Homo sapiens: one gene and its partner. The protein of the gene in region 1 interacts with the protein of each later gene in a pairwise test. Each region holds a gene or a part of one and is shown in the gene's direction. Other genes may lie near its edges.

The links.
Region 2: the proteins of JAM2 (region 1) and GPR20 interact in a two-hybrid assay, tested with the Homo sapiens proteins (one large-scale study listed by BioGRID and IntAct).

The regions. Positions count from the first base shown.
Region 1 is NC_000021.9:25,701,619-25,705,434, forward strand, and holds part of JAM2 (junctional adhesion molecule B isoform 1 precursor), read left to right. Parts: intron 1-551; coding exon 552-651; intron 652-3,816. UniProt on the Homo sapiens protein: Junctional adhesion protein that mediates heterotypic cell-cell interactions with its cognate receptor JAM3 to regulate different cellular processes. Plays a role in homing and mobilization of hematopoietic stem and progenitor cells within the bone marrow.
Region 2 is NC_000008.11:141,357,175-141,360,990, reverse strand, and holds part of GPR20 (G-protein coupled receptor 20), read left to right. Parts: intron 1-3,043; 5' UTR 3,044-3,067; coding exon 3,068-3,816. UniProt on the Homo sapiens protein: Orphan receptor with constitutive G(i) signaling activity that activate cyclic AMP.

The DNA.
Region 1 (3,816 bases):
TTAAAAAAATTCTAGAGTTGATAGAATCGACAATCCTATAAACCGATACCAATTAAGATTTTCCTAGGCCCTAAGCTACTTCCTGGTAGTAACTGGCTCTTTAAAGGAAGTGTTTATTGTTGGCTGCTGCAGTGAACTCGCTTGTGACTTAGGAAAGTGCATTAACCCTTTTACCAGGGAGGCCTGCCCTTCATTTATAAATGATGTTTCCTAGGAATTAGAAATACCTACACTACTTAATACTACCATGTGTTATGAACTTTAAAAAACACTCATTGCCTTCCTAACAGTACTGCTTTCATGGTTAAAAAAAAAAAAAGGAACTTCTCTGTATGTATTTTATCTTTGTTCTTCTCGTCAAATTAAGCAAAAGTCTAGCTTAAACTCCTTGAAGTCATGGCAGATTTTTAAATTCATAGTAAAGACAGAAAGTCCCAAATTTTTAAAAAGGAAAGACAAACTTAATGCTAAAATTTGAGGGACAGGGTTATTTAAAAAGTCTACTTATAGATCTATGGCTTAAAAAAATATATTTTTGCATCCACAAATAGCAATTTAATACTGTTTCCAAACTGGACACTGGAGAATATTCCTGTGAAGCCCGCAATTCTGTTGGATATCGCAGGTGTCCTGGGAAACGAATGCAAGTAGGTAAGCATGAAATATTGGGAGGAACAAATGGTTTGCAATTCGACTGTGAAGTACAGCAGTTGGGGGTACAAGGAGCAAGGAGCAGGAAATGTCTGAGTGACTTGAAGAATAAACAGGAGAGAATGACTAAAATTAACTTGATATGATGTGTTGCAAAGAAGCAAAGATGCTGTTTTTAAGCCATCTCCCAAATAAGCCAAAAATACTTAGTATTGTATTTAACAACTTTTTTTAGTTTTTTAAATAATCGTTTTTAAAATACATTCTTCTAAGTAGTCTTTCTCTCAAATAAAAGCTAAGTATCTTGTAGTCTAAATTGTTGAAGGTCCAGAAGTTTGAATTTCTGATATTTTTAAAATTCAGGAATGTATATCATTGATATTATTCACCAAATTAATTCAGGTGTTGACATTTATAGTCAACGTAGCACTTATTTAAGTAATCAGAAAGTATCCCTTTCAATGCTGCTTTGAAATTATCATTTAAAAAAATTCATCACAACATGTTTAAAAATTAAGGCATTGTTTTCTTTGTTTCCTTTATTCACATACGTCCCCATGGGTTTTTTTTGTTGTTGTTTTGTTTTTGTTTTTGCTTTTTTGAGACAGGGTCTTTGTCTGTTGCCCAGGCTGGAGTGCAGTGTCGTGATCTCGGCTCACTGCAACCTCTGCCTCCCAGGTTCATGCAATTCTCCTGCCTCAGCCTCCCAAGTAGCTGGGATTACAGGCATGCCCACCGCACCCAGCTAATTTTGGTATTTTTAGTAGAGACAGGGTTTCACCGTGTTGGTCAGGCTGCTCTCGAACTCCTGACCTCAGGTGATCCGCCCACCTTGGCCTCCCAAAGTGCTGGGATTACAGGTGTGAGCCACCGTACCCGGCCTGTCCTCATGGTTTTTACCATTACCTTGTCCTACCAGCACTATTTCTGTTTATTTTTCCTTCCATTTAAATGGTCCTGTTTAATTTAAACATCTACCTTTGCCTTCTCTTAAGGAATCATATCCAGGAAGTCATGGTTTTGATGTATTAGTTACTTTTTCTTAGCACACAATAAATACATAACGAATAAAATTTAAATGTTTGTTTCTCCACTAGGACCACTTTAATTTGAACATGATTCTCACATATCTACTCTAAGTACAAGTTAGCTTAAAAGTTAAAATTAGTTTGTTTAACGGTCATCCATTGATCCGAGGTGTTTTGTGTCCTTGGTTGGGACTTACATCTTTTGAAATACATACAAATTCATAAATTCATTTTTTTGGTTTTCTTTGTGAATTATAACTATATTCACATGTAACCAAAATTAGAATATGTTAACTGTCCTAAAGAAATTTTTTCAAAGTGCAGCAAGTAAAGCATGGATTTGTTGGTTGTTTATGGCTGCCTCACTATAAAACTCCAGCAGACTCCACCCACACTGGGCCTTTCAGCAGTTTAGTTCCTTTTCTTTCAGTAAAAAAAATGGTACCTTCCTTTTATAAAGACTTTTTTTTCAAAAAAAAAAAAACACAAAATATTTTCATACTTAATGTTACATTTTCTCTTCACTGAGGCATAATATGGCTGTATGACTTGCTCAACATCACAGAAAATGGTGAACAGGATGTAAGAAGTTAACTTACTCCTTATCTATTACTCTTCTGTCTCCCATTTCACTGAAGAAAAATAACATAAAATTCATACTACAACTTAGCACTTACAGAACAAGACAATTTTTTGTCAGTAGTTTCTTTTAGGGTGAATCCTTCCTTCATAGATGTCAAATTCATTGACAAACTACAAGACAGTTTTTTTTTTTTGTCAGATAATAGCCCTTACTTTGAATGCTTCATAGATGTCAGATTTAATGACTACTACAAAGTAAATAGAAGGTACACTTTGGTTCTCAGGAATTTCACTTACTGATTTGACTTTGCCTAAGATTATGATTACTGTAGATTTTTTTCTCTCTCTGCTCTTTTTAATCCAAGTAAATAAAAAGCTGAATCTTATTGACCTCTCAATACCCAAGCAAACTGAGTTTATACCAAGCAATAATTAATGTTTTCTACTCTGGTCAAATTACTTAACCTTTCAAAAGACTTATCAAGTTTTCTTTTTTAAAAAAATCAATTAATATTTTGGAGGTATTTAAGAAAATTAATAACACACTTGGCATTAGGAAAGAATTTCGAGACCAGAAGTTTTTATGATAAGCAGATTCACTTAAACAGTATCTCTAAAAAGATCATTTCCAAAATGTACATTGCTTTAAAATATTTAAATTATTTTTGAGAAAATGCTATGTAATATTTTCTCTAGGTTATTTAATCATAGGCTAATTAAAACTTGCTTTGTAAAATGGGAACTCTTTGAAGAATTGCTCCTTTAATAAATACATGGGAAGTATCTAAATGGCAGAAGAGTGTGGCTCATAAAATCCTCATGGACAAGATGGAGAAATATGGTCCAAACAATATTTTGGTGGATCCACACACAGTTGAATCCCATGCTCAGAGAATGTTAATAAATTGTGTTGTATGACAGGAGGTGTCTGCTAGCCTGTTACATAGTTGTTTCCTAAACAAATCCATGTTCATCATGTTATTAATGACTTGAATGAGAGTATTTTTAATAAAATTCTCAATTTGCAGAAATGTTAAGCTTGGAAGGTTAATAATGTAATTATTAGGCAACAGAATCAATCTGAGAAGAAGAAAAAAACTTCACAGTAGTTATTTCCAAACTTGGGTTCAAAAAATCCAGTTGCATTACATTAGAGGACGGATGCCTTAACAGTCATAGGAAAAGCCTCAGAGAATTTAATTCATTTTTCATAAATGGGATGACAGTTTAGTTGCATATATGTATATGACTGTGTATGTGTGTATACACCCATATACATATAATTGTATATCTACACCCATATAATTCAAGAAGGAACGTATTTCTTACACTTAGTTTTACAGAATAACAATGACATGTGCTTTTTTTTAAGAGACAGTCTTGCTCTGTCACCCAGACTGGAGAGAAGTAGTGCAATCATAGTTCACTATAATCTGAAACTCCTAGGCTCAAGTGATCCTCCAACCTCAGCCTCCTGAGTAGCTGGGACTCCAGGAATGCACCACCATACCCGGATAATTTTTTTAATTTTTTTATTTTTTAGAGATGGATTCTT
Region 2 (3,816 bases), on another chromosome or scaffold:
GGAAACTAGGCTTGGGGACAGGGCCCTGCCTCCCCTCTCCGGCCGGCTCTGAGGGTAAAACCATGCCTCTCCCCTCAGTCCAGGCTACCAGGGCGAGGCAGAGCTGTGGAAGGCACGAGTGACCCCATTCAGCAGATGAGGACGGCCAGCCTACTGACCAGGCCCAGGTCTCAGCTGAGGGAGTGGCAGGGCTGGACTCAAACCCGGGTCTCTGTGCTGGTGACTGCTCATCACCCGGGCCCTCCGGAGAGCAGAGTCTGTGCCTCTCCCACAGGCAGAGCCAGGCTGTCCCAGGAGGGGCGGAACCTTCTCCTTTCCCCAGGCACTCGCCAGGGAGCCACTTCCATGGGCCCCTGCAGGGTCTAGAGTCCCCGCTTGCATTCCTCCTCCTTCTGAACAAAGAGGGTGGTGAGTGGGAGCCCCAGAGAGGCCCCGTAATAATCGAATCGGGACATCCGTCGCTGTGGGAGGCAGGTGGGGGTTGACAATATGGAGACAGAGACAGCCAGACGAAGCTGGGAGAGGAGGGCAGAGACAGGGACAGAAGGTCCGGGCTGAGGGCCCAGGTCGTGGCTGGGATCAGGGCTCAGAGCGCCACAGGAATCAACGCCCATTGTGCTATTAGGATTGGGGTCAGTGTGTGACCAGGGTCAGGGCTCAGAGTGGGACAGGGATCGAGGTTCATCACATTACTGGGATCATGGCTCAGTGTGTGACCAAGATGAGGGTTCAGCTTTGTTTGAGATCAGGGTCAGACCCTTAGTGCGGGGAATCAGAGCATGCTTTGCTAGCTCCCTCTCCTCTCCGGTCTGGCCTCTGGGGTGTCCAGCACATTCTGCCCATCCCCCCAGCTCCAGAGACCGCAGAGCCCCCACATCCCTAGCCAGGACCCCAGCACCGCAGCGTTGCTGGTGAGCCTGCTGGGCTGGCCCTGGGGAGTTTTCTGGGACAGCAGAATTCCCAGGGGCCAGCATCACCCTGGGACTCACTCCCACAGGAAACGTTCTGTGTTGTTTATGATTTGTCTCTGATTGGGACACTAATATAGGCCCCGTGCAGACAAATTGGAAAAGCAAAAGGCACATAGAAAGGAATCCCAAAATACTTTTTTGGCCATGCAGTCCCTCAGTCCAGCTGCAAAGCCGCCTCGACCTTTTCTGAGAGCGTTTCATCCACAGCAGGGGAGGGACGCATCTCTTTCGGGGGGACCTTCTGGGGCTCCTGAAGCCCACAGCCCTGAGACGCCAGGTTCCCAGCCCCCATGTGCCCAGCCTCCTCTCCTCCCCTGGCTGCCTGCTGTGCCCCCAAATCCCGTCTCTGGTGGCACACCTGGGCTGAGGGAGGACAGACCTATTCATCCAACAAATGCACCCATCAATGCCCGCGTGTCAGGGCCTGGAGATAGAGAGCTTGCTTGCAGTCGGGGGGAGCTGGGAGCTGAGCCTGGGCCCTTGTGTGGTGGGGGTGGCAGGAGGGGCTGGGCACAGGCCTGGGCAGCACTTGACTCCTCCCAGCAGCCTCCAGGGTAGCACGCACCCAGGGCTGGGGTCCCAGAGGCAGAGGGCATGCTGGGTGACCTCATGCAGGCACTGACCTCTCTGACTCTGAGGAAGAAGGTGGCCGCCGACTGGAGGGACCTGGCCCTCTGAAAGCAAGAGTTCTTTTGCTGCCCTGAGCCAGGCCAGGGGCTGTTTGAAGGCAGGGCTCATTGTTCCCCAGGGGTGGGATGGGGCCACGCACTGGTCAGAGGGAGTGGCGGGGCACAGCCTGTTTACAGCAGGGGCCACCAGGAGGGGAAGGGGTAAGTGTCCTCCCTTCTCCAGCAGGTGGGGGAGGGGCGCTGTGCAGAAGAAACGGCCCACGAGCCTCCCCACCCTGCTGGCCCCAAAGACTTCTCCTTTCTCCTGAAAAAGCCAGAAATGCCCTTATTTGGAGGGTCAGCCCAGCTGTAGGGTGGGGGTAGGGCCGTTAACCCTTCATTTATAAATAGAGGGATAAATCACTGCCGAGTTAAACACGCCAGGGCAGGAACATAAACAGAGTGGGTGGCTCCGGCACAGCCCCTCGCCCGCCCCCCACCCTGGCCCCCCTGCCCAGGCCAGACGGGAGCTCGGTGTTTATTTGACTCACACTCTGGCTCCAGGCTTCAGCCCCAACCAGCCACCCCACAGGGGCCTCTGTCTCCTTTTCTGTAGTTTGGGGGGATCATAGGGGTGCCCGCCTCTCAGGGCCAGTAGGAGCCTGGGGTGCCCAGTGAGACTGGTCCTTGGCTCCCATGCAGCCCCACTGGACAGCCTAATTCCCTTTGTAAAGGTCCCTCATGAGGACCCCCATCCAGGGCATTGACCTGATGCTGGCCTAGGAGGAGGGGAGAACAGATGGGTGGTCCCGGAGGATGGGGGCCATGACGGTGGGTGTGGGGACAGGGGAGTGGGCAGGGCAGTCAGAGGTCCCCACCATGAACAAGGCTCTGTCCCAGCAGAACTGGGTCATCAGCCACCAACTCTGCTGGCGCTGCCGTGCTGACCCGCTTGCTTAGTCACCCCAGCAGCAACGCGATCCCAGTGACATGGATTAGGAAGCAGGTAGAGAGGTTAAGTGGCCTACCCGAGCAAGCACACTAGTCAGTGGCACAGCTGGGGCTGGAGCCAGGCCCTGGAACTGCACACTGGAGCCCCGTGGTCTTGCCCTTATCAGCTCTCCATCCCGAGGACAGCCCTGCACCGCACGTGTTTCCGCCTCCCCCTCGTGCCAGGACGGTCGCAGAAACCTCCGTATTTTGTCGAGTCTCCACGCTGGCAAGTGCCAGTCCTGGAATTTGAACACGCGTCTGACTCTGAAAGCCTGTGCCTTTTCTGCTGCTGTCCGAGGCTCCCTCTGGGTAGAGCCAAGGGAGCAGGCATTTGAGGCCCCAGCCAGGCGAGGGCATGGAGAAGGGGGATGCTGGGCGTGCAGGGGCAGACGGGCCAGCTGAGTTCTGGGCCTCAGGGCAGGGCTTAAGGCCAGGCTGGCGCCTGGGGTGACCTGGTCTCCTTGCTTCCAGGCCTGGGGTGTGCTGGCTGCCGTCATGCCCTCTGTGTCTCCAGCGGGGCCCTCGGCCGGGGCAGTCCCCAATGCCACCGCAGTGACAACAGTGCGGACCAATGCCAGCGGGCTGGAGGTGCCCCTGTTCCACCTGTTTGCCCGGCTGGACGAGGAGCTGCATGGCACCTTCCCAGGCCTGTGGCTGGCGCTGATGGCGGTGCACGGAGCCATCTTCCTGGCAGGGCTGGTGCTCAACGGGCTGGCGCTGTACGTCTTCTGCTGCCGCACCCGGGCCAAGACACCCTCAGTCATCTACACCATCAACCTGGTGGTGACCGATCTACTGGTAGGGCTGTCCCTGCCCACGCGCTTCGCTGTGTACTACGGCGCCAGGGGCTGCCTGCGCTGTGCCTTCCCGCACGTCCTCGGTTACTTCCTCAACATGCACTGCTCCATCCTCTTCCTCACCTGCATCTGCGTGGACCGCTACCTGGCCATCGTGCGGCCCGAAGGCTCCCGCCGCTGCCGCCAGCCTGCCTGTGCCAGGGCCGTGTGCGCCTTCGTGTGGCTGGCCGCCGGTGCCGTCACCCTGTCGGTGCTGGGCGTGACAGGCAGCCGGCCCTGCTGCCGTGTCTTTGCGCTGACTGTCCTGGAGTTCCTGCTGCCCCTGCTGGTCATCAGCGTGTTTACCGGCCGCATCATGTGTGCACTGTCGCGGCCGGGTCTGCTCCACCAGGGTCGCCAGCGCCGCGTGCGGGCCATGCAGCTCCTGCTCACGGTGCTCATCATCTT